7 linked regions of the Homo sapiens genome follow. The protein of the gene in region 1 purifies or fractionates together with the protein of each later gene. This does not show direct contact. Each region holds a gene or a part of one and is shown in the gene's direction. Other genes may lie near its edges.

Region 1 (3,500 bases):
CCAGCTTCTCTCATTTCATGAAAGGCAAGAAGCCCAGTTCCTCCACTAGAGCTCAGGATCTCCAAGCCCTCTCACCTTCTATAATTATTTCTCTCCTTCTCCCCGTGTCTCCTATTAGGAATCATTTCCTTTCTGGTAAGACTGTTGTCATCAGCTTTCAAGCCCTTCCACATCTTGCCCCTACAAATTTATCTTCCGCCACCCTCAGCACTTCCTCACTCTGCTCTAGCCAACTGATCTTCCGCCTGTGAAGTACTTGCTCACTTCAGAGCCTTCACACCTGCTGTTTCCTCTGCCTGGAGTACTTGCCTCTCTCAACACAAAACCTTGCACACACACACGTACTCATTCATCACACACTGGCTTAGTTCATGTCTTTTAGGTCCTAGATTAAATGCCACCTGCTCAGAGAGGCCTTCCTTGACTGCGTTAATCAAAGTTGATCCCTGCCGTTTTTCTCCAAGTCCCATGTTTCTTTCCTGCTTGGCACTTTTTACAGTTTATTTATGTATTCTGTTTACTTTTTAAAAACTCCTCCCCAGAGTGTGAATTCTTTTAGGTCAGGCCCTGGGAATTCAGGTCCAGTTTATAGCTGAATTCCCAGGGCCTAGAAGAGTGTTCAGCACATGGTAATGTTTCTGACCCACATCCCAGGGAACGATATCATCCACTCAGCTACTCAGCTGACCACACACTTGGGAGTCTTTGAAGCCTTCGTTTGTCTCCTTCAGTTTTCTCACCCCAAGTCCTTCATCTTCCAAATGCATCTTCACAGTCCCTTCCTTCCAGCTTCCTTTTTAAACTCTTTCAGCAGCCTCCCTGCTCTTCTGGGCTTTTGCTTTCTTGACCACTGCCTTTCAGCCTCTTTCGTTTACTGACACTGTGCAAATGTTTCCAAAACAGACTCTTATCACATATCTTACGTTTCAAACTCTTTGGTGGTTTTCAATCATCCATGAAATATAGGTCAAAGCCCTGTGCATAGCATAGAAGACCCTTTAGACTCAGCCTCCCTTTTACCTCCATCCTGCAGAACCTAATTTATAACCACTTCCAGCTACTAAGCATTCTTTCTGACTGAAATGCCCTTTCTCCTCTTCACCTACCCAGCATATACTCCCACCGTCCTTCATTAAGACAGATATAAGAAATACCAACATAGAACAGACTACTGGTGTTAATTCAGAAGTCTGGAGATCACTGATCCAGATTATTAATAGAAGGAGACTGATGCCCAGAAAGTATCACTGACTTGCCTTAGGGCACACAGCTAGTGGGGTCCAAGCTAAAAACAGGCTCCATGTCTTCTGATTTCTAGTCAACACTTGACTGATGAGGAGGAGGAGGGTTTTTAAGTGTGGTGAAGGTAGAAGAGAGAGCTGGGGCATTCAAGTAAAGAAAACCAAGATGCATAGAGAGACAAGTGCAACAAGTGTGCAGAATGAAACGAAGACCAAGGACAGAGAGAAAGTATGACTCATCTTTACTGTGCCTGCATTCAGTCCCTTCCTGAGCCCAGTGTCAGGAAAATAAGTGAAAGACTTTGAAACAAACAAAAAGAGTATTTACTGGGTATCTTGGAGTTATTATTATGCTATTTTACAACTCTCAGTTGTGGAATCCTGGCAGTTAACGCAGGTGATTGTTGTTCATGGAAATGCAAGTTGTGTTCAATGGAGATTCATTTTATTGTTAACCTGTGGACAGTATCCAGTTTTGCTAAGTCAGGATTCCTCGTTACTTATATTATGTATGTTTTGAATTCTCCTTTTGAATCAGTTGTAACATCTTACTAGTTTCCCCATTTATTGATGAGTTACTAATCTCATGCATGTTATTTTATACTTGTATGAGAGTCTTCCAGGAAAACCTGTATCTGAGGAATATATGCCTATATTTGCTTAAGTTGAAAGAAAAGATGGGGGAGGGGATTAGAGCCATTGTTGGCTGTGAGTAGTATCTCGGAGACAAGCCAGGCTGATTTCCTTAAAATAACTAGATTGAAAAATTGGAAAAATTAATACCAAATCAAAACTTGTTAGACATTAATGATTTTGATATATACAAAATGCTGTTAAATGTGTTTCCTCCTCACTGTAGAACCTCTACTATAAATAGTTGATTGTAATCAATCTTTAGATACACATTTCAAAATTATTATTATAACTGAAAACCAGATCTAACAATAATAGGAAAGTAATATTGACATTCAGGAGAGAACTAGATACCAATTGAACCTTTCCTTCTTGTCAATTCTTGTTAAAATATATGTTCTGGTAGTTACTTTCTTCTGGACAGTTTAAATGACTTCATTTTCACCAAGTATATCTCTGTTGGTGCCTGCTAAGTGATAATCTCTTTGAAATTTTAATTTTATGGGTCTCAAGGATTGAAAATGTATTAACAGCAGCTGCCTTGTCATTGTTATTGCTTTAGCTTGAAGCTGGCTAATTGCTGTAATATCGCAGCACTGGAAAAGACAAAAGAGAAAGGGGAGACCTGTAATAAAAGACCATTTTCTGTAATGTGTGCTATTTGCTGTGCAAATTGATGGTTTTAAGGGTTGGAAGACTGCAGGAGTCTTCCCATTAGCTGTACTTTAAAATGTAGTTAAAATATCACTTATATCCCTAAATAAGGAAGTAGCAAATTATACAGGCATAGGTAATTTGGGCTAGATTTCTTAAGGACGGATATAAGAAATACCAACATAGTTTTTCCTTAATAACTCCTGTAATATTCCCTTCCTGAGGAGATGTCACCCTAACTGCTGTTAGGGGGTTTTGGGCAAGAACTCTTTCTGGCTACTTCCTGCCGAAAAGGGACATCAAGTGGGGAACAACAGCTAGGGCTCCTCCTGGGGTTGATCTAAGGGTCCTCGGAAGAATGGCACGTCCACGTGTGGTTCGGTTTGCAGCACCATTTGGATTGATTGCTTCTAGGCAAGAGGAAATGATTTGAGTTATAGTATTGAGTATGCAAGGTCCAAATATTAATACAAGACATATAAGTAGGAGTGGACTTAATAAAGGAGCTAACCAATTCCATAAAGAAGACTAGAATTCATTAAAGAGGAATTGTAGCCACCCGGGGCTGAAGCCTGCGTGTTCTTGTAGCCTCTTAATGATTTTGATTTGATCTTTAGGTAGCTGTAGATTTTCCTCTGCTTTACTAGAGGTGTTAATCCAGAAGCAGCATGTTTCATTTATAAGTGCACAGGTACCTCCTACTTCAGCTGTGAGGACGTCTAAGCCCCGTCTATTCTGTGCTGCTACTGTGGTGAAAGAGTCTGTAGATTGCTGTCGTGCCTCTATGGTACCTACAGTTGCCTTCCACCCTTGTTGCATCATAATAGAAATAGTAAGTACTGATCTTTCAAGGAGAGGGAAGCCCGTAATCCAGACTAGACCTCTGGCTATAGAATTTCCCATTCATGGTTTTTCTAAGATGGGATTGTCATGTGCATGCCCTCCCCAGTCTGCTCTTTCAGTTAAATCTCC
Region 2 (3,500 bases), on another chromosome or scaffold:
CAGCTACTGGGGAGGCTGAGGCAGGGGAATCGCTTGAACCCGGGAGGTGGAGATTGCAGTGAGCCAAGATGGTCCTGCTGCACTCCAGCCTGACCACAGAGCGAGACTCTGTCTCAAAAAAAAAAAAAAAAAAAAAAAAAAAAAAATACAAAAACTATAGCAATATGACAACAGCTGCCAGGTTGTATCAATTTATCCAGCTTGCATTTAGAAAAGGTTAGAGCTGAAAGGAAATTTAGTGATTATTTAATTGTTACTTCCCTCATTTTATGGACGAGGAAGATAAGGCTCAAAGAATTTTCCTTTCCTGAAGTCTCAGCTATGCCATTGGTTCCACATCATTTCATCCTCACCTGCTCTTCAGCTTGTGTCCCAGGAGATCAGGCTTCTGGTTCCAGATTGGACAACCTCTAGTTTTGTATACTTGGCCAAGTGATTTAACCTTATAAGCTTCAGAACAAGATGCAGATATTCTGTTATTAAAGGAACTAAGGTTTTGTCTTTAAATGTTGAGTGTGCATCAGTTTTGAGTGTCTAATTATGACTCCTCTTCAAAGGATTTGACAAATTTGTGAATATTTATGACCACCTTTTAGGGTAGTAATTTTCAGTTTGTACTAGTTAACCTGGCAGATAAAAAGGCATCCCTCTTTTACTAGCATTCTAGTGTTAGCATTCTTCATTGCTTTGTGTCAATGAAAGAAAAATGGGCAAAGAGCTGATGAACATGAAAAAAGTTCAGTCTACTTGTAAAGACATGCACATTGAAACAGAAGAGATGGTTTTGCCTTTCAAATTAGCAGTTTTTTTTCTTTTAAGAATTACAGTGCTGATGAAGGTATAATGAGGCAAGCACTTGCATAAGCTGTTGGTAGACTGTAAATTAATACCTTTCTGGAATGTACTTTGTGGGGTTTTCTTCTCCCATAATTTAAAAAATAGCTTTATTATAGTATAATTGACATACAGTAAACTGCATATATTTAAAGTGTACCGTTAGGTCAGTTTTGACGTACATACACACACACACACATCTGTGAAACCACAATCAAGATAATGAATATATCTATCACCTCTAAAAGGTTCCTGTCTTTGCTTTTTTCTCTGTCCCCTAAACAACCACTGATCTATGGCACACATAGAAAAAAATTAGGAAATATATTAAATGCTCATTTTGTGTGAGATATCCAAATATTTTTTTCAGAATCCCTAATGAAAAGGTTGATCTTGCTCTAGATACAAGATATAAAATTGTATTCTTGAAATAGCTACATGCAATTCTTTTTTATTATTTTTTAATTTTAATTTTTAGATTTTTAAAGATGGGGCCCTGCTATGTTACCCAGGCTAGCTTCAAACTCCTGGGCTCAAGGGATCCTCCTGCCTCAGCTTCTCAAGTAGATAGGACTGATTATAGGTACAGGCTACTGTGCCCAGCTCAATTCTTGATTGAGACATTTACCAGCTCTCCGAATTCTCAGTAGTTACCACTGAATAGAAACTTTCTTTACACAAAGCTGATTAAACAGTTTAGAACTTTTAAAAAACATTCAAAAATTGAAAATTTCATATATACATAGCCTAACAACTCTTCTTGTCATTGACAAAATGTGATGGTATTTTTTTTGTGATAATACACATGGACCTCAAATGCAATTGAACTATTCATATCAAGTATTTCCAAATAACAATGACATTCCAATTTATAGAATGTCATGTGTTGTGAGGGTAGTCACCCTGCAACTGGCTTGGACATCTCTAAGCAAATAGAAGTTTCTGTAAGATAGAGATTTGGGGCATCTACTTGGAACTACCTATGAGGAGCTGGCATTCCTCAAATCCCAACTGACTGCACTTTTCCATGAAATTACCCAGCAGTTATGATGGTCAGTGGCTCACTCAGCAGCAAGCCACTTAGGTAGCTGGCGAGGGACGTGGCACAGCCTTGTCTTCACACAGCACATCACAGCCAGGCAGCAAAGGACAGATCTCTCTCATACTCTTCATTCACAGGGCCTGAGAGGTGGACCATCAGACTCCACCCTGTTTTGCGCTGACTTGTAGGGAGACCTAGGTGTGGAGCTTCCTGGCCAGGAGGGCAGTGGCTGCCCAGAAGGCAGGAGATGGCTATCTCTTTTTTTTTCCTGAGACGGAGTCGTGGTCTGTCGCCCAGGCTGGAGTGCTGTGGCGTGATCTCAGCTCACTGCAAGCTCCGCCTCCTGGGTTCAAGCCATTCTCCTGCCTCAGCCTCCCGAGTAGCTGGGACTACAGGTGCCCACCTCCATGCCCGGCTAATTTTTGTATTTTTAGCAGAAACAGGGTTTCACCATGTTAGCCAGGATGGTCTCGATCTCCTGACCTTGCGATCTGCCCGCCTTTGGCCTTCCAAAGTGCTGGGATTATAGGCGTGAGCCACCACCCCCGGTCCAAGATGGCTATCTCTTAACACACTTGTAACCCATTTGTGCACACAGGTGTGCCGTGACTCACTGGTGGATCCAAAAAAAGCTGAAGCCTACATTTCCCAGAGCCCCTTTCAGCTTGAATTCCAAATGTGACTTAGCTTCCTCTATGCAGATGTACCTACTTGAAACTGGGAAGGCCAAATGAGATAGAGGTAATGTTTCTGCCAACAAACAGCCACAGAGCATTTTATTTTTCTAGAAGAGCAATAACAGAGACCCCAGGGTGTGGTGTGGCAGGACGAGGAGCATCCATTTTGCTGGTGGGGATTGTGGCTAAAATAATGTGGCTCTGGAGCCAGCAATGGGCAGCATCTTCATGACTTTCCAGCTTCCAGGCTGTAAGCAGAGATAGCATCTCTTCTGGACAGCCAGTTATGTGATAGTGTTCTGAGAGTCATTCCTGGAAGTCAGACTAAAGGCTGCTCCTTCAGCCTTTCCATTCATCTTGTAAGCAGGAGGCTTCTGTGCATGGCCAGAAACTAACAAAAGCACATTGTGTCTAAACTAGGTTGCAGTGGTTTCTGTTATCAGCAAGTAAATCCTGATTGATAAAGATACTACAATATATGCACATATATATGTTATAGAATCAATAAAAATTGGATACTTTGCTTTAAAAGTTTGTGAATTTTGCTTTTAAAGAATTTCCCTCAGGGCCGGGCACAGTGGCTCACACCTGTAATCCCAGCACTTTGGGAAGCCAAGGCAGAAGGATCGTTTGAGCCCAGGAGTTTGAGACCAGCCTGGCAACATGGCAAAACCCCACCTGTACAAAAAATAGAAAAATTAACTGGGTGTGGTGGCATGCACCTGTGGTCCCAACTACTCAGAAAGCTGGGGTGGGAGGATCGCCTGAGCCTAGGAGGTCGAAGCTGCAGTGGGCCAAGATTGTGCCACCGCACTCCAACCTGGATATCAGAGTGAAACCATGTCTCAAAAAAGAAAAAAGAATTTAAAAAGAATTTCACTCAGGGTTACAGACACTTAATGTTATTAAGACCCACTAGGAACACCTGTGTATACTGCTGGCTGGTT
Region 3 (3,500 bases), on another chromosome or scaffold:
GAATTTCTTGCCTCACCTGACTAAAAAGTTGAGCAAGATAAGCTTCAGGTACAACCTGACCCAGACTGCAAATGATGTTGCTAGGACCTGGTTCCACCCATTTCTTGGCTCTGCTTCTTTTGCACTGACTCCAGTCTCTAAGCTCTCTCCCCTGTGGGAGCCACATTGCTGCAGCCTCTCTTCACCTCCACCTAGGGTGAGGTCTGCTGGGAAAATAGGAGAGTTATTTCCAGTACCTCTCCCAAAAGTCCTAATGTACACTCCGACTTGGAGGACCTTATGGTGACCGCGTCATGGGGGACCACAAGATGCACCCAACCCTAAACCAATCACTGCGCCCAGGGGAATGTGAAGGTGTGATTGGCTCAGGCTGGGCTGTGTGCTCTGCCCAGACCAATGGACACAGTGTGGGGGAGGCATAGGTCCCCAGAGGGAAATCTGCAGCTGTTGGGAACAAGGAGAGAAGATGTTAGCATGTGTGGGGAAGAATATTTATCCTCTGTGTGATCATTCTTAGCAAAGAGTAGTTCAAATTATTTGTGGAGCTGCTTGGAGGCTGGGGTGAAATGGGTTCAGCCAGTGTCTGGAAACCTCACAAAGTCATTTTCTAAGTAAGCACTCAGGGTGAAGAGAGCTTGTAGCATCTTTAGTGTGGTCCATGAAAGAATATGTATAAAGGCAAACTCCTCCGAAAACCTTGTCCAAAAGCTAGTATTGTACTAAAGAATAGTAAGGATTGGGTTTATAAAATATCTTAGGCCAATTCACCTGTAGTCCACACCATAATTTCAGAGGAAAATTTTCAGGCAGTGGTCAACTACATTTAGATAAACGTTTTCCCAAGTGGTTATACTAGAATTTTTGCTTCAGTTGCCCAGTGTTTATTGGGATTCAGAGATGAGACACTCTCCAGGAAACTAGCAGGGAAGATGTGAAAGCAAATACACCACCACATGAAGAATCTTGCTATAATGGACATGCATACAAAACAAAGCAGCAATGCAGACTTCATTCTGCTGTCACAGAAGCCTTACAGAGGTGACAGTTAATGCCTTAGTGAGTTTTGAAGGATGAATAGGAGTACACCAAAAGGGAAAGAGATGGCGGATGTTTCACACAAGAGGAAGGGTGTGAGCAACGTTTTAGTGACCTGACATAGCATTGTATGCTTTTGGAGGCAGTGCAGATTCAGGCTTGTATTCCAGCAGTCCCTCTAATCATGTTGTATAGCTCTCCAAACTTGTTTATCCATTTATAAAGTACAATTCCTCTCTCATGGATTGTTAGGAGAATTAAACAGAAATGCAAAGTACTCAGCTCTGCTACAGTAAGAGCTGAACAAACCTTTGCCATTGCCATTATAGTCTGGCAGGAGTGCTGTGGGTGATGATTGAGGAGGGGAGAGATTAGGAGTCAGATCATGAAATGCTTTGATTGCTATAGTAGGGAGCATGGCTCTTATCCTAAAGGCATTAGAGAGCCTTGTAAATGGCTCTGAAATGAAGGATCAGATTTGTGTCACCGTGGGAAGGATAAAAAGTCCACCTGGGGGACTACTGCAGAAACCCAGTGAAGGAACGATAAAGACATGAAGTTGTAAGTCCTGATGGTTCTGGTGGTGGGGGGTGGCTATGTGACAGACAGAAGAGATATTTAGGAGTAGTCCTAGAGCATCGCTGGGTACAAACTCAGCCAGTTGCTGTGACTGACCAAACAGGCCCCTGGCTTGTAACCCCTAGGACCAGGCCTGATACTTTATAGATTTTGTCCTGCTTAATTCTCCCAATAACAAAAACATTTTCCCAGGTGCCCAGCTCCAAAGCCTATGTCCTTCCTCACTGTGAAGGAGAGTGACAAAGCTGGATGGGTCCTTCCGTCTCCCATCCTACTCCATGCCTAGCAGGGTGCCCAGCACTGAATGGCAGCTAATATCTATTTGAGAAAACAATGAAAGCAAGTGCCTCATACCATTCCCCATGTCTGGGGTAACTTCTCCCACCCCACTGCCTGTGCAAGCCCTCCCCACCTCTCAGAACCCAGTCCCCAGCCCATCTCACCATGTCAGCTTGCTCCACATCCTCAGCCCACAAAGCTTTCCCTGGCGCCGAGGGGGCAGAGAGAGCCTCCTGGGCATCCTGAACGATTCCTTCGACCCTCAGCCCTGCTGCTGGTGGCCTCTGTGCCAGCTCTACGGTCAGAGGTCAGGGTGTGGCTTCCTAAGACATTACTGCTTTATGGACAGTCTGGCTTTGAGTTAGTGTGGCTCTTGTTGAGATCCCAAAATATAGTTTGGCTTTTCCCCTGCATCAGTTTTCTTTCCAGGAAACAGAAAATGGAGTTTCTCGGAGTCTGGGGTGAAGGGGACTGAAGTGATGCTGCCCCATTCTCACCAACCACCCACAAGGGTCCTGGCCCCAAGCGGGTGAATTCCTTGCCTGCCTGGACCATTCTCAAAGTCAGGGCAGCTTTGGCTTCCTCTCCATTTTCAAGTTTTCATACCTTATCAGGGCAGTCTGACTTTGAAGCATCATTTTCCCTGGAGTCCTCAGGGCTCTCAATGAAGCATGAATCCCCCTGTCCTGGGGTGAGGATGCAGATGAGGGCCTGGTGGGTGTGTGGTGTGGCCCTTCTCCCATTTATGTCATGAACTTTGGCAGACTTGTACTATTTGGGTGCTCTGTCCCCATCTCCACCCCTGTGGGTCAATGCAAACAGAACAACTCCTCACATTTGTGAGGGCCCCACGAGGTGCTTGTCTATGCCTTAGATTATTTGAGTGACAGTGGCCTTATGACTGAGGTAGGGGCAGTATTACTATTTTTAAATAATATTTTCTCCTGCATGTTTTTGTTTAAATGTGGGAACTCTAGGAAGTACATAGAAGAAAAAAAAAAGGGCTGTTTTCCCATCATGTTTGCTCTTCTGTACTCCCCCAGTGTCTACCCTGCTGTTAATCATCTTTGTTATTCTCCAGGACAGATATTTTTTGAGATGGAGTCTCACTCTGTTGCCCAGGCTGGAATGCAGTGGCGCGATCTTGGGTCACTGCAACCTCCCACTCCTGAGTTCAAGTGATTGTCATGCCTCAGCCTCCTGAGTAGCTGCGATTATAGGCACGCGCCACCACGCTCACCTAATTTTTGTATTTTTAGTAGAGACAAGGTGTCACCATGTTGGCCAGGCTGGTCTCAAACTCCTGACCTCAGGTGATTGGCCTGGCTTGGCATCCCAAAGTACTGGGATTACAGGCCTGAGCCACTATGCCCAAACTTTAGGAAAGATAGTATTATCTCCATTTTATAGACAATAAAAGTTTAAGCTCAAAGTCATATAACTAATAAGCGGCACAGTTATAAGGAGAATGTGCACAGTTCTTCTCATCACCAGTCTAATGCAATAGTAGGACTTCAATGCACAATTGTTGAATTCAGAAAGATAAATAAGACTATTTGTTTATTTATTTATTTATTTATTTATTTTGAGACAGCGTGTCATTCTGT
Region 4 (3,500 bases), on another chromosome or scaffold:
TTCTAGGCATAAGCCACAACATCCAGCCCTAAGTACTGTCTTATAACAAATATTTGGACTCTTAAGGTACAAGTTAACAGTCCTTGAAACCGTTAGAACAAACTTTTCAACATTACAGAAAATAACTTTGTATCTCCTTTAGCAAAAGCTCTGCCTCTCCTGTAACAGGTAGACTTGGACAGAAATTCACTTTTTAATGACAGAACAAAAAGACAAGAATAGATTTGACTTAAATTATTTTGGCAAATTCAATTTTTACTTCTAATTTTATTAAATATACATAGGAACTCAACTTCACAGTAAATGATATATAATAAGAATATATTTAAATTGTTATGGTGCCCTTCTTTCTTATCTTTCTAAACAAAGGCAAATTGGTTTTTTTTGAATTTTATTTATTTATTTTTATTTTATTTTATTTTATTTTATTATTATTATACTTTAAGTTTTAGGGTACATGTGCACAATGTGCAGGTTAGTTACATATGTATACATGTGCCATGCTGGTGTGCTGCACCCATTAACTCGTCATTTAGCATTAGGTATATCTCCTAATGCTATCCCTCCCCCCTCCCTCCACCCCACAACAGTCCCCAGAGTGTGATGTTCCCCTTCCTGTGTCCATGTGTTCTCATTGTTCAATTCCCACCTATGAGTGAGAACATGTGGTGTTTGGTTTTTTGTCCTTGGTGATAGTTTACTGAGAATGATGATTTCCAATTTCATCCATGTCCCTACAAAGGACATGAAGTCATCATTTTTTATGGCTGCATAGTATTCCATGGTGTATATGTGCCACATTTTCTTAATCCAGTCTATCATTGTTGGACATTTGGGTTGGTTCCAAGTTTTTGCTATTGTGAATAGTGCCGCAATAAACATACGTGTGCATGTGTCTTTATAGCAGCATGATTTATAGTCCTTTGGGTATATACCCAGTAATGGGATGGCAGGGTCAAATGGTATTTCTAGTTCTAGATCCCTGAGGAATCGCCACACTGACTTCCACAATGGTTGAACTAGTTTACAGTCCCACCAACAGTGTAAAAGTGTTCCTATTTCTCCACATCCTCTCCAGCACCTGTTGTTGCCTGACTTTTTAATGATTGCCATTCTAACTGGTGTGAGATGGTATCTCATTGTGGTTTTGATTTGCATTTTTCTGATAGCCAGTGATGGTGAGCATTTTTTCATGTGTTTTTTGGCTGCATAAATGTCTTCTTTTGAGAAGTGTCTGTTCATGTACTTCGCCCACTTTTTGATGGGGTTGTTTGTTTTTTTCTTGTAAATTTGTTTGAGTTCATTGTAGATTCTGGATATTAGCCCTTTGTCAGATGAGTAGGTTGCGAAAATTTTCTCCCATTTTGTAGGTTGCCTGTTCACTCTGATGGTAGTTTCTTTTGCTGTGCAGAAGCTCTTTAGTTTAATTAGACCCCATTTGTCAATTTTGGCTTAAGAAAGGCAAATTGTTAATCTAGATGTTCACATCTCCAGAGGCATTTGTGTCAGAAATGTTTTAAAATTCCTCTCAAAACAATAGACACTGGGGACTGTAAAAGGAAGGAGGGAGGGAGGAAGGTAGGGAGGCAAGGGTTGAAAACTACACATCAGGTACTGTGTTCACTATTTGGGTGAAGGATCAATAGAAGGCCAATCCTCAGCATCACACAATATGCCCACGTAACAAACCTGCACATGTACCCCCTGAATCTTAAAAAAAAAAAAAAAACTCTCAAGTTTCCTGCTTAAAAACCTGTCAGTTTTAATTCTGACATAGAGCATGGTATGACTACAGTGCCTGTAATCCCAGCACTTTGGGAGGCCAAGGAGAGAGGATCGCTTGAGCACAGGAGTTTGAGACTAGCTTGGGCAACATAGCAAAACCCCATCTCTACAAAAAGAGAAAATAAGCCAGTCCTGGTGATATGCACCTGTGGTTCCAGCTACTCAGGAGGCTGGGGTGGGAGGATAGTTTGAGCCCAGGTGTTGGTGCCTGCAGCGAGCTATGATCATGCCACTGCACTCCAGCCTGGACAACAGAGCAAGACCTTGTCTCTTAAAAAAAGGAAAAAAAAAGACTGCACATGTATTTAGGATCTATAAGAGATGAATTTCATAATATTTTGCATAGAGTTTTCAGATTACGTCCTGTGTTAATACAAAACAAAACAAAAGATCGGAGCAGAGTGGGCATGGGGAACTTCTGTCTGAGGAACAAATAATGGCAACAAGAGAGTTGGGGAGTTCTGTCTGTGGCCTTCTGCCTTTGGTTTAGTGATGTTTATTGCAGCAACCCAAGTAATATCTTCTCAGAGGATTCATGTGAGTTACACTTCTGCCTCCTAGGCACTTCCAGGGGCTCATACCCCTTCAGTCACTCAATGAAGCCTCACCTACATCCACGCCTGTACCACGGCTGCTATGGGGACATCATGACCATGAAGACCTCTGGGGCCACTTGTGATGCAAACAGTGTGATGAACTGCGGTAAGTGAAAAGCAGAGCAAATGACTGGCTTCCCCCTTTCATCGTTTTCAGATTCTTTCTTAGGAAGTCACTTAATTTTGAAAAGGTATAATCATCATTATGACAATAGTATCAAAATTAAAAATGAGCAAAAACCACAATCCTGACCAATCTAACAACCAGCTTCTTTTCATTTTCCACCCCCATTCTTTCCAAACTTTGTCCAGCTGTGTTTATTTCCATGTATTGAAACTACTGCTTGAATAAATATTAGACTCTGGCTTTGTTTTTTGGGTGGTGCTGCTGTGTTTGCTTCATGTTACACATGACCATTTGAAGCAATACTGTTCCAAAGTCGTCTTCATCACGTTATCCTGGTTTTAGAGTGTCGGAGCTGGCAGCAACCACAAGGTCACATCAGACCCCAACCCCTCAAATTTACAAATCAGAGCCCAAAGACTCAGCAAGGAGGGGAATACTTCCCAATAGAACAGAACCAACTAGTGGCGGAGCCAGGCTAAAACATGCATTGGCTAACTCCTAGTACAACAGGCTTCCCAGTGCACTAGTGTGGCAGAATTTTTTTTGTGTGTATGACAGAGTCTTGCTTTGTCACCCAGGCTGGAGTGCGATGGCATGATCTCGGCTCACTACAATCTCCACCTCCCAGGTTCAAGCGATTCTCCTGCCTCAGTCTCCTGAGTAGCTGGGGTTACAGGTGCCTGCCACCAAGTCCAGCTAATTTTTGTATTTTTAGTAGAGATGGGGTTTCACCATGTTGGCCAGGCTAGTCTTGAGCTCCTGACCTCAAGTGATCTGTCCACCTCGGCCTCCCAAAGTGCTGGGATTACAGGCATGAGCAATTTGAAGGAGAAACAGAGCAGAAGCGACACCTGTTGGGGGTTGTGGATCTGTTTGTTTCTGCAGTCAGAGATCAAAAGGATGTCTTAGAATGGTTGTCCCAAGTCATTAGCAGTGATCAGAGGCTGTGGCTAACTTAGCAAATTTTTAAAAATGGTTTTCTTCTGAAGTAG
Region 5 (2,846 bases), on another chromosome or scaffold:
GCGAGGTAAGCCTGCCTAGCCTGGACTCCACTCCCTGCAGCACAGGGGCCTTCCCCCAGCCGGGGCCAGAGCCAGGGTCACAGTGGCTGTCAGAGCCGAGACTCCACCCACCAGTCGGGGCGGGCATGAATGCAGCTGTGCCCCTTACCAACCCCGTGATCCTGGGCAAACCACATAACCTCCCCCAGCCTCATGCTTCCAGTCTTTAAAACTGCTGCTATTTTGGAAATCAATTCAATGTAGCAAACGTTGATCAAGGCCTGGAACAGTTATCAGGCCTAGAACTGGTCTAGGTCTAACCCAGACCCTCTCTCAAAGGCCACATCCGTCTTTCTTTCTTTCTTTTCTTTCTTTCTTTCTCTTTCTTTCTCTCTTTCTCTCTCTCTTTCTTTCCTCTTTCTCTCTCTCTTTCTCTCTTTCTTTCTTTTTCTTTCTCTGTCTCTCTCTCTCTTTTTTTCTTTCTTTCTTTCTTTCTCTCTCTCTCTCTCTCTTCCTTCCTTCCTTCCTTTCTTTCTTTTATTTTGTTTTTTGAAGGAGTCTTGCACTGTCACCCAGGCTGGAGTACAGTGGTGCGATCTCAGCTCACTGCAACCTCCACCTCCCAGGTTCAAGCAATTCTCCTGCCTCAGCCTCCCGAGTAGCTGGGATTACAGGCGCCCGCCACCATGCCCGGCTAATTTTTTTGTATTTTTAGTAGAGACAGGGTTTCACCATGTTGGCCAGGCTGGTCTCAAACTCCTGACCTCAGGTCATCCACCCACCTTGGCCTCCCAAAGTGCTGGGATTACAGGCGTGAGCCACCGCGCCCAAGGCCACATGTTTCATATGAGTTGGCATAAGCATATGCTGCATAGGAAGAGATGACCAAGCAAAGGGGCCTGTGGCCCCTGGCAAAGGTGAGCACCTGACTGTCTGGGGCAAGAAGAGAGCACCATATAGGTAGAGTCACCGGATTTAGCAGATTTCATACAGGATACCCAATTAAATTTGAATTTTAGATAAATGATGAATAATATTTTTAGTGCCAGTATGTTCAGAATATTTCACGGGACACACTTACACTAAAACATATTCATTGTTTATCTTGAATTCAAATTTCAGTGGATGTCCTGTATTTCACCTGGCAACCCTACTTTGGGGTTAAAAAGGCATTGAAGGAGGGGAAAGATTTCAACAAGCAGAGATGGGTGCGGGGATGGGTGCAGCAGTGTGGCCAAGGCTGGGGGTTTTTGGATATCATGGAGTAGTGGGTGGTGGGGATTGGGTGCTTAGTGGAGATAAAGTGGGAGGTTCAAGCCAGTCTGGGAAGGATCCAGCTTGCCAAGCTGAGCCCGCTGCTCTGAATCAGATGGCACAGATTCCACTGTATTTTTCACGTTGACATAAGAAACATAGTTACTAGAATTTTCTCACTTTTGAGCTTTCCTGCCACAGACTTCCCACAAACATTTAACACCAGCTCTGAAGGTCTTGTTGAGTTTAATGGCTCATTTCTTTCTGTAGTTACGTTTGCTGATAGCTGTGATTGTAACACAGGATACTGTCCTGTTTTCTGCAAGTAAAATTGTGAGAATTTTGTAGGCTAGCAAGAAATGTGCCAGGATTTCACACATGCCCGTTAGTTTCCCAGTACTGATCACCTGTTTACAGACGTTGATGCCTTTGGAGTGGATTTGGGATGCAAGTCATCTCAAAGAGCTAATCCAGAATCCTTCTCCCTCTTAACCATCCACCAGGTGGATGAAAGGAGGTGCTGGAGGCTTCAGGGTGGGGGTACCACCACCTCACTTTCACCCAGCTACAGCCCAGTAGACCTTTCTGCCACGGCTATGGTTGATGCTTCCCTGTAACCCATGAGAAAGAGAAGCAAACCCCACTCCATCTCTCCCCCCACCGACTCCCGTAACTGATGCTCCCCCTGCACCATCTTTTCCTTCACACGGCATCTGCTTGTCGAATATTCTCCAGCATTAATGGCGAAAGAGCCAGGAACCCTGGAGTAAACCAAGTTACTGCTGTGCTGGATGGCTTGGGCCAAGTGGTCTTCCTCTCTGATCCTCTCTGGGCCTCCGGCCCACTGTGGTCGCCAAGGAGCTTGGCAGACCTTGACTTTGCCCTTGGCTTCCGTAGGCTGTGCACAAGGCTGAGCTGAAGATGGATGAGAGGGGTACGGAAGGGGCCGCTGGCACCGGAGCACAGACTCTGCCCATGGAGACACCACTCGTCGTCAAGATAGACAAACCCTATCTGCTGCTGATTTACAGCGAGAAAATACCTTCCGTGCTCTTCCTGGGAAAGATTGTTAACCCTATTGGAAAATAAAGGAGAATTCCTGCTTGCCACAGACCCCGAACATGGCTTGGGGTTGAACATGTTCCATCTTCCTGAGATGGAAGTCACAGGCACATTTCAGTTTAGTCTCTCCCTGTCACCACCTCCCTAGACAGCCCGAATGAGCAAAACTGCAAGTTCTAGAAGTCCTGTGCCCCATTTCCTCCCTGCCCATTCAAATGCTGGGATGCAATGCCCCACCCCCGCCCACTTGGTGGCATTCTCCTCTCCCCTCCAGCGGGCAGAGGGACTCTGTGATTTAGTAAACAAATGTTTCTCCCCCACAGCCCTGCCCCAGGTTGACTGGCTGTTGGTGGATAATTTGGGGAAGGTATGGGCCACAGCAAGTACCTGGGGTCTCGAGTGAGAGACTGGGGTTCAAATCCTGGAATGAGGTATCTTTGGGAAAGCCACAAACCCTCTCTGAGTCTGTCTTCTTATTTCTGAAGTGAAGGTCCCGCCCCTCCCTTTGGGGCTCCAAGGAAGCTAGTTCAGTGCTTTAACAAAGTCGGTCC
Region 6 (3,500 bases), about 59 Mb from region 1:
GAGTCACTTGAGAAGTGTAATGCCAAAGCATTAGAAATAATTTTGAAACTGAATGAAAAATATCTTTCCTGACTTGCCAGTTCTAGAAAGATTTTTGCAATGGTGAAAGAAAGGAGAGAGATGATTTGCAAATGTTCAGTCCTAGAAATTAGAGTTGGAGAAGACCTGGGACTGATCGTGGGCATATGTGACAACTTTTGAAGTAGTCTTTATTTTTCTTTCTCCATTTTTTCCCCTGTCCTTTAAGAATTATCTCCAATTCCTCACTTCATACATGAAGCTTTCCCCCATGACCCTGGCTTGTACTGATCTGTTTCCTTCCTAACCACTCATGGAGCTTGGGGTCTTTATCATGAACTTGGACACTGCATTTTCTTCCCTCTGCATTGCCCTCTAATTGCTTGATGTACATTAGTCATGTCTGCAACTGCAGTAAAACACCCTGATGATAGATAAGAAGTTTTGGCGTATATTCAATAATCCCCCTTCCCTGCACGGAACTTTGTCATTGACAATATCCTATGGAGGATCCAGTACAGGGCAGGCATTCAAAATCATTGAAGTAAAAGCTAATCACCTTATCAACTGAGTTGTTCTGGTTGTTTTATCTTTGAATAAGGGGAATGGGCAAAAATCTGGGGAACAAGATGGTGGGTGCCAAAGTTTCAGTAATGTGAAAACATTTGGAAACCAAAGTTAGGCACATCCTTATGCACAAGGACGAGATCGAAAATGAATTGAAATCATTTTGCTGAGACTCTATAGCCCTCAGATGGTGCAAATTAACTTTTATGCTTGGTACCTATGCTTGATTATAGGGTTCAAAAATATAATTGAGTCTATAATCACTAATGTTTCCTAGAAAGTATAGGATTTAGGAGTTAGATTCTATTTAGAAATACTTTCTCCAGATAAATATACTTCTCCTCCTCCTTGGAGTAAATGGGGACACTGGGCTCCTTTGAGTTGCCTGGGGATGGTGTCAGTATTTTGATCTATTTATACCAGTCCTGCTCAGGCTCATAAAGTCCTTAATTAAGGTGTGTGTTTGGTGGTAAAGCCTGATCCTTAATGGAAGTAGGGTGGGGTCATCTTATTTAAAGCCACAGTTCTCACCATAGACCTCATTAGGCCATCAACACACATTCAGCCTTTTTCTTCCCAGTGAAATGCAGGGTTTTCATGGACGCTAACTCATGGGTGGAACTGCGCTTGAACATAAGTGAGGCTAGCCACTGCTCAAACCCCATTTTTGTAGAGTCTGTTAGTTGACCCAGCCACATCACTGCATCAGCCCAGTGTATGGCAAGGGGCTTTGAGTATTCTAAGAAGCAGGCCCTAGGATAGGTGTGAGAGAGAACTCACACATCTATCTGAAAGAAGGACCAACTGAGGGGAAGCAGGGAGGAGACAGAGGTTTTTGTGAGCTTTGAAATAAAGAAAAGAATATCATCTGGTAAGTGCATGGTCTAAACAAATGGTAACTTTCAAATCTCAACTTCTGTCTTATCAGCACCAAAAATATTTTGTTTGGACTGATGCCATATGAATCTCTGGGAACTGCTGTTCTACCCTATATCAGTAAGTGATTGTTTCTGGCTGCCACTAGAGACTGGAGTATAATGTCTTTAACAAATTAGGATTTTGTATTCATTTGTAGAAGAATCCAGAAGTGGGCAGTCCAAGGCTGGTGGGATAGATGGTATAACAAGATATCAGGGGCTTTCTGTATTTCTGATCCACCATCCTTAGCCTATGTGCTTTAAACCCTTTGTGGTTTCCCTCCTCAAGCACATTCATGGTCACAAGATTGCTGTTGGATCTCCAGCCATCGTGTCTACATTCCAGGAAGAAAGAGAGAAAGGCAAAAGGTAGAAGCAGAACAATTTTTGCTGCATCAGCCTTTCAAAGGGTTCTCATTGAAACCCTACCCAACCAATTTTACTTAAATCTCATTGGATACTCATAGCCACAAAGAGGACTTGAAAAAATATAACGTTTCAGCTGTGTACTTTTCTGCCTGAATAAAGATAGAATTTACCTCTGACACTAAGAAAGAAGGGGAGCATGAATATTGCAAGGCAGCTGGCAGTCCCTGCTCCCCTCCCCTACCTCAGTTCTCTCCTGTTTTCCATGATTCACAGGCATCCTCTTAGTCCCCATCTTGCTTTTCCCACCTCCATATGATGGACCCCCAAGGCCTGGTTAGCAGGATCTGAAAGATAACTCATTGACAGTATAATAAGTTAGCTAAGTGTCACTGAGTATTTACTATGCTCCAGGCATTGCTTTAAAAGGTTAGCACACCATGAAGTGGGGTGACCAATCTTCTGTCTCTGGGAGGGAGATCAGGTGGCATCGGGAGGATTTCTCCAGCCAAGTGTAGCCCAGCCTTGGTCTTAGGGAGATGCCAAGGCAGTCCAGTTTGCTGGTAAAGTATGGGGCTCTGGCATCAACTGTCACATTTAGAATTCTTGCCCCACTTTATGGGCAAGTAATTCAATCTCTCTTTGCCTCAGTTTTCTCATCAGTAAAATAGGGATAGTGACAGTACTTGCTTTGAGGGTGTATCAGTTTTCTGTGGCTGCTGTAACAAGTTACAAACTAGGTGGCTTCAAACAACAGCAATTTATTCTCCCCCAGTTTTGGAGGCCAGATGTCTGAACTGCATGTGTTGTCAGGGCCACAATGCCTCTGGAGGTTCTAAGGGAGGGGCCATTCCTTGACTCTTCCAGGTTCTGGTATCTGCCAGCATTCCTTGGCTGTGGCTGCATCACTCTGATCTCTGCCTCCATTTTCATATCGTCGTCTTCTCTCTGTGTGTCTAGCCTATCTTTGCCTCTTACTTATAAGGATGCTTTTGATGGTGTTTAGGGCCCACCCAGCTAATCCAGGATGATCTCCCCATCTCAAGATCCTTAACTTAATCACATCTGCAAAGACCCATTTTTCCAATAAGTTTCTGTGGATGAGGACTGCGGAGTTATCTTTGGGACTTAGGATCTGCACATACTCAGACACAGTGCCTGCCACTTGAGAGCACTTGATCAGCTCTCGTGGTAGCTCTGCCGTCTCACGGGGTTCTTTGGAGAGCAGGAGCCCTGGGGGAAAGACCTTGGCTGGTCACATTTTCCTCTTTTCTAACAAAGCTTTACGCTTTACCAGAAATAATCATAACTGTCATTGATTCAGCACCACTCTCCCAGTTGCTGTGTGTGTGGCTCTACACCTCTTCTCATTGAATCCTTATGATAGCTCTACCATGGTCACTGCTTTACAGCAGAGGAAACTGGTTCAGAGAGGTTAAGTCTCTTCCCCATTTCACAACCAGCAAGTGAGAGAGTTGGGATTCAAGCTCATTTTCATTCCCCCTCATCATGCCATTTGTTTTGAACACACCTTGTATATGAAGGGCTTCTGTGGAAATGAAGAGTGAAAAGGAAGGACCCAAGACATAGGTGGTGCCAGGGACCCAGAGTGAAAGAATGTATATAGAAGCA
Region 7 (3,500 bases), on another chromosome or scaffold:
ATATATGTACAGCCTTTTAAAATTGAGGTAAAATATCAAATGAACTAAAAACTTTGAGTATTTTTTTCTTTTGAGATTTTCTGTTTCCATTATTGATATACAGTGGGAATTAACAAATTTTGGAAAGATTCATACATGTGGCAATATAATTGATTATTTAAGCTATAATATAAATATAATTTTTGCCCCTCAAAAGGAAGAAGATTAACATTAGTGATATGCTAATTTTATTTATTTTCTTGCCTAGCTCGGTAGTTATTGAATGGGTTCCATTAAAATTTTCCAAAACAGTTTCCCTTTTTCTAAAGCAGGTAGCAAATATCATAGACAATTATGAAGGCAACTGGAAAATGGAGAAGAGGCATGTTTCAATAGAATTTGTCTTGCAATCTTGCATGTGGTACTTATTCCTGTGGATTTTATATATATATATATTATATATATTAGGATTTAGAAAGAAGAGATGTTTCTAGCTTCCTCACTAGACTGTAACATCCTCCAGCCTTAAATCCCACAGTTATAGTGAGGTTGCTGAAGAGTACTTTAAACATCATATACTCCAATATTTACTCTACCTTCTACAACATCCTCCAAAATGGCCAGGTGACATGGACCTTAGCATCTTTCTAAGTGGTCCAATCCATTGCTAAGGGGACTGATTATTGAAACCTTCTTATAAAGGACTGAGAGCTACTTCCCTAAAACTTTTACATATTGCTCTATTAACTTTTAAAGTAATGATCATCAAATAGGGGATATATAGTTGTCCCTCAATATCCATGAGAGATTGGTTCCAGGATCCCCTACAGATATCAAAATCTGTAGATGCTCAAGTCCCTTATCGGCATAATATTTGCATATAACCTATGCACATCTTACTGTATACTTTAAGTCATTTCTAGCTTACAATAACTAATTCAATGTAAATTCTAAGTACGTGTCATACCGTCTTGTTTAGGAGGTAATAACAGTAAAAAAAAAAAAAAGTCTGTACATGTTCAGTACAGAAATGATTTTTTTCCTGAATATTTTCAACCCATCATTGGTGGGGAACCCATGAATACCAAGGGCCAACTATATATTCCCTAGCACAGTTGCTCTCTACAGCAACAATTTTGTACCTTACGGGACATTTAGCAATGTCTAGAGACATTTTTGGTTTTCACAACCAGAGGGGTGGGTGTTATTGGCATCTAGTGGTTAGAGAACTAGGATGCTTCTGAACATACTACGATGTGCAGGACAGTCTCCCATAACAAAGAATTATCCAGCCCCTAATAAGTAGTGTTGAGGTTGAAAAACTCTGCTAACAGAATGCTCTTGGGTTTTTTTCCTAATTATATACTCCTACACTGGTGCAAGAGATTCTAATAGTAAGCCACTGGTAGGGATCATAGGAATGTGTGATATCCTTCTGGTGAAATGAACAGAGAAATGTTTGAGGATTCTAGTTCTCAAATCATACAGATCTGACTTAAAACATTGTGAAAATGACAGCCTTTGACTTCTTATGATAAAATTATCTACCTGTCAAACTACTGAGGTATAAAAGTAGGCAAAACTAAATCTATGGCTATTAAATGAAGAAATGGTTATCCTTGTGGGATGGATACTGATTAAAAGGAAGCATAAGGAGAGATTCAAGGTCTTAATAATGTTCTGTTTCTTTATCTGGGAGATGGTTACATATGCATGTTCGGTTTGGGAAAATTCATTTATTTGAATACTTATAATATGTCCATTTCTTTCTACATGTTTATTGTACTTCAGTAAAAGCCTTAAAATGCTTAAGTGTACCGTGGTGAGCAATAGACAAATATACAAATATCAATCCAGTATTCTGCAGAACCTTTTGAAAAATATTTAAAAATTATGCTTCAGATGTATAGTTAATAAAATTAAACATCTAAACATCTGTTAAATAACTTCTAGAAACATCTTTTGGTTGAACAAGCTCAAATATTTGAGTCAACAAAAAAATTCAAAAAGTTTCTTTAGAGCTGAAGCCCTTCTTTAACTACAATCCAGCCATCAATCTTTTAAGTATGGTTGTTATCATCAATGAAAACAACCAATGTTTAGTAATCCCAAAGTAAAAATAACTGCATTTAAACTCTGAAATGTTGTTTTTGTTAGGTCATTAGTTAGCTGAAAATTACTTACTACTAATTATTAACCCATAGAATTTAAAATTGGCCACTCAAAGATAATTTGATGCCCAAAGTTAAGACTGAGAAGCAATTGCTGCCACTAACCCTAACCACATGTATCCCAGAGGTGGCAATATGAAGACCTGCCAAATAAAGTTTCTACAGAATAGTAGCCACTACTTCTCTCTCCATTAAAAATGTGCAGCAGTAAAAATCAAAATTGATATTTGAAGAATCTATAGATACTGATAGCAAGGTCAGAATATATTTAAATGCATTCACAGATGAAAATCCATATTTATTAAGAGACAATTGGACATATTTAAACTCTAAATATTACTAAGAAGGAAATCTACTTAATTGTCCTTCACTCTTGCTTAAAGTCATTTGAAACATACCATGAGTAAAGTAAGAAAGACAAATCATTGTTTCATTGAATATATATATATAAAAGAGTGCCACAAAAGTGCAATACATGTCCTTTGGTTTTATACATACCAATTTAAATAATTTTCCATAACTTTGCATATAGTAACAATGACTTTAATTATGAACCAGTTGTAAGATAACCTTTTTTTTTCTTTTCTAGCCATGAATGGATCCACTTTAAAGTATTACAACTCAAAGCCGTTTTTTTTTTGTGTGTGTGTCTCTGCATTAGTACTTTGTTATTTTTCCATCACTAAAGGCCAATCAGAATTTGGAACCATGCTGCTACCCAAGAAATCTAATGGAATGAATTAGTTCTGTAGATGACAATTTCTTCACCCATTTATGAGACCTAAATCTTTTCCATAACACTCATGTATTCAGTATAACAACATACTAACTGAAAGAGGGACCTGATTGTTTAAAGTTTGATTGCAGACACTGTAGAACATAACTCATTATGTTTCAGATAAGGTAACTCCTAGATATCAAACTAATTTGTTGGGGTAGAGATTTTACAAGTCATGCCATTAGAAGATTTTCTCTGATATTATATGTGCAGTTCAGTTACAAGATGAAATCATGTTTTTTTAACAAAAGAGATAAAATACAATTGAAGCAAAAAATAACAGCTAGTATATAATATATACAGTCTGTATTTGCTTTTCACAGTAGGCCTGATGACTAAAAGATATGCTTTATTACACGCTATTTTCACCTCTTGAAAGTCAAAGGTGATGATTAATTTCATTTAGCAGGGAAGTGGAATAATATCTTTTGAAATAACTAAGTCCACTAAATTATACAGTATGCTATTCTGGTTCTAAGTACATATTAGTCCCTTGGCAAATCTGTTCTTTCAAAGCATACCTTCCCCAAATGAGCCTACCTACTTCTTAAAAAACATATAACACAATGTGG

What was found.
Region 2: the proteins of APIP (region 1) and FASTKD2 purify together in Homo sapiens (affinity purification with mass spectrometry; 3 studies listed by BioGRID and IntAct, with this or other methods). This does not show direct contact.
Region 3: the proteins of APIP (region 1) and SDR9C7 purify together in Homo sapiens (affinity purification with mass spectrometry; one large-scale study listed by BioGRID and IntAct). This does not show direct contact.
Region 4: the proteins of APIP (region 1) and LYG2 purify together in Homo sapiens (affinity purification with mass spectrometry; 3 studies listed by BioGRID and IntAct, with this or other methods). This does not show direct contact.
Region 5: the proteins of APIP (region 1) and SERPINA12 purify together in Homo sapiens (affinity purification with mass spectrometry; one large-scale study listed by BioGRID and IntAct). This does not show direct contact.
Region 6: the proteins of APIP (region 1) and HEPHL1 purify together in Homo sapiens (affinity purification with mass spectrometry; 3 studies listed by BioGRID and IntAct, with this or other methods). This does not show direct contact.
Region 7: the proteins of APIP (region 1) and POF1B purify together in Homo sapiens (affinity purification with mass spectrometry; one large-scale study listed by BioGRID and IntAct). This does not show direct contact.

What each region holds. Positions count from the first base shown.
Region 1 is NC_000011.10:34,906,380-34,909,879, reverse strand, and holds part of APIP (methylthioribulose-1-phosphate dehydratase), read left to right. Parts: intron 1-3,500. UniProt on the Homo sapiens protein: Catalyzes the dehydration of methylthioribulose-1-phosphate (MTRu-1-P) into 2,3-diketo-5-methylthiopentyl-1-phosphate (DK-MTP-1-P).
Region 2 is NC_000002.12:206,793,106-206,796,605, forward strand, and holds the end of FASTKD2 (FAST kinase domain-containing protein 2, mitochondrial), read left to right. Parts: 3' UTR 1-3,084; downstream 3,085-3,500. UniProt on the Homo sapiens protein: Plays an important role in assembly of the mitochondrial large ribosomal subunit.
Region 3 is NC_000012.12:56,924,409-56,927,908, reverse strand, and holds part of SDR9C7 (short-chain dehydrogenase/reductase family 9C member 7), read left to right. Parts: intron 1-3,500. UniProt on the Homo sapiens protein: Plays a crucial role in the formation of the epidermal permeability barrier.
Region 4 is NC_000002.12:99,245,667-99,249,166, reverse strand, and holds part of LYG2 (lysozyme g-like protein 2 precursor), read left to right. Parts: intron 1-2,346; coding exon 2,347-2,487; intron 2,488-3,500. UniProt on the Homo sapiens protein: May act as a potent antibacterial protein that may play a role in the innate immunity.
Region 5 is NC_000014.9:94,486,779-94,489,624, reverse strand, and holds the end of SERPINA12 (serpin A12 precursor), read left to right. Parts: coding exon 1-5; intron 6-2,130; coding exon 2,131-2,322; 3' UTR 2,323-2,346; downstream 2,347-2,846. UniProt on the Homo sapiens protein: Adipokine that modulates insulin action by specifically inhibiting its target protease KLK7 in white adipose tissues.
Region 6 is NC_000011.10:94,024,354-94,027,853, forward strand, and holds part of HEPHL1 (ferroxidase HEPHL1 precursor), read left to right. Parts: intron 1-3,500. UniProt on the Homo sapiens protein: Is a copper-binding glycoprotein with ferroxidase activity. It oxidizes Fe(2+) to Fe(3+) without releasing radical oxygen species. May be involved in the regulation of intracellular iron content.
Region 7 is NC_000023.11:85,278,666-85,282,165, reverse strand, and holds part of POF1B (protein POF1B), read left to right. Parts: exon of another isoform or gene 1-51; intron 52-2,739; coding exon 2,740-2,745; 3' UTR 2,746-3,500. UniProt on the Homo sapiens protein: Plays a key role in the organization of epithelial monolayers by regulating the actin cytoskeleton. May be involved in ovary development.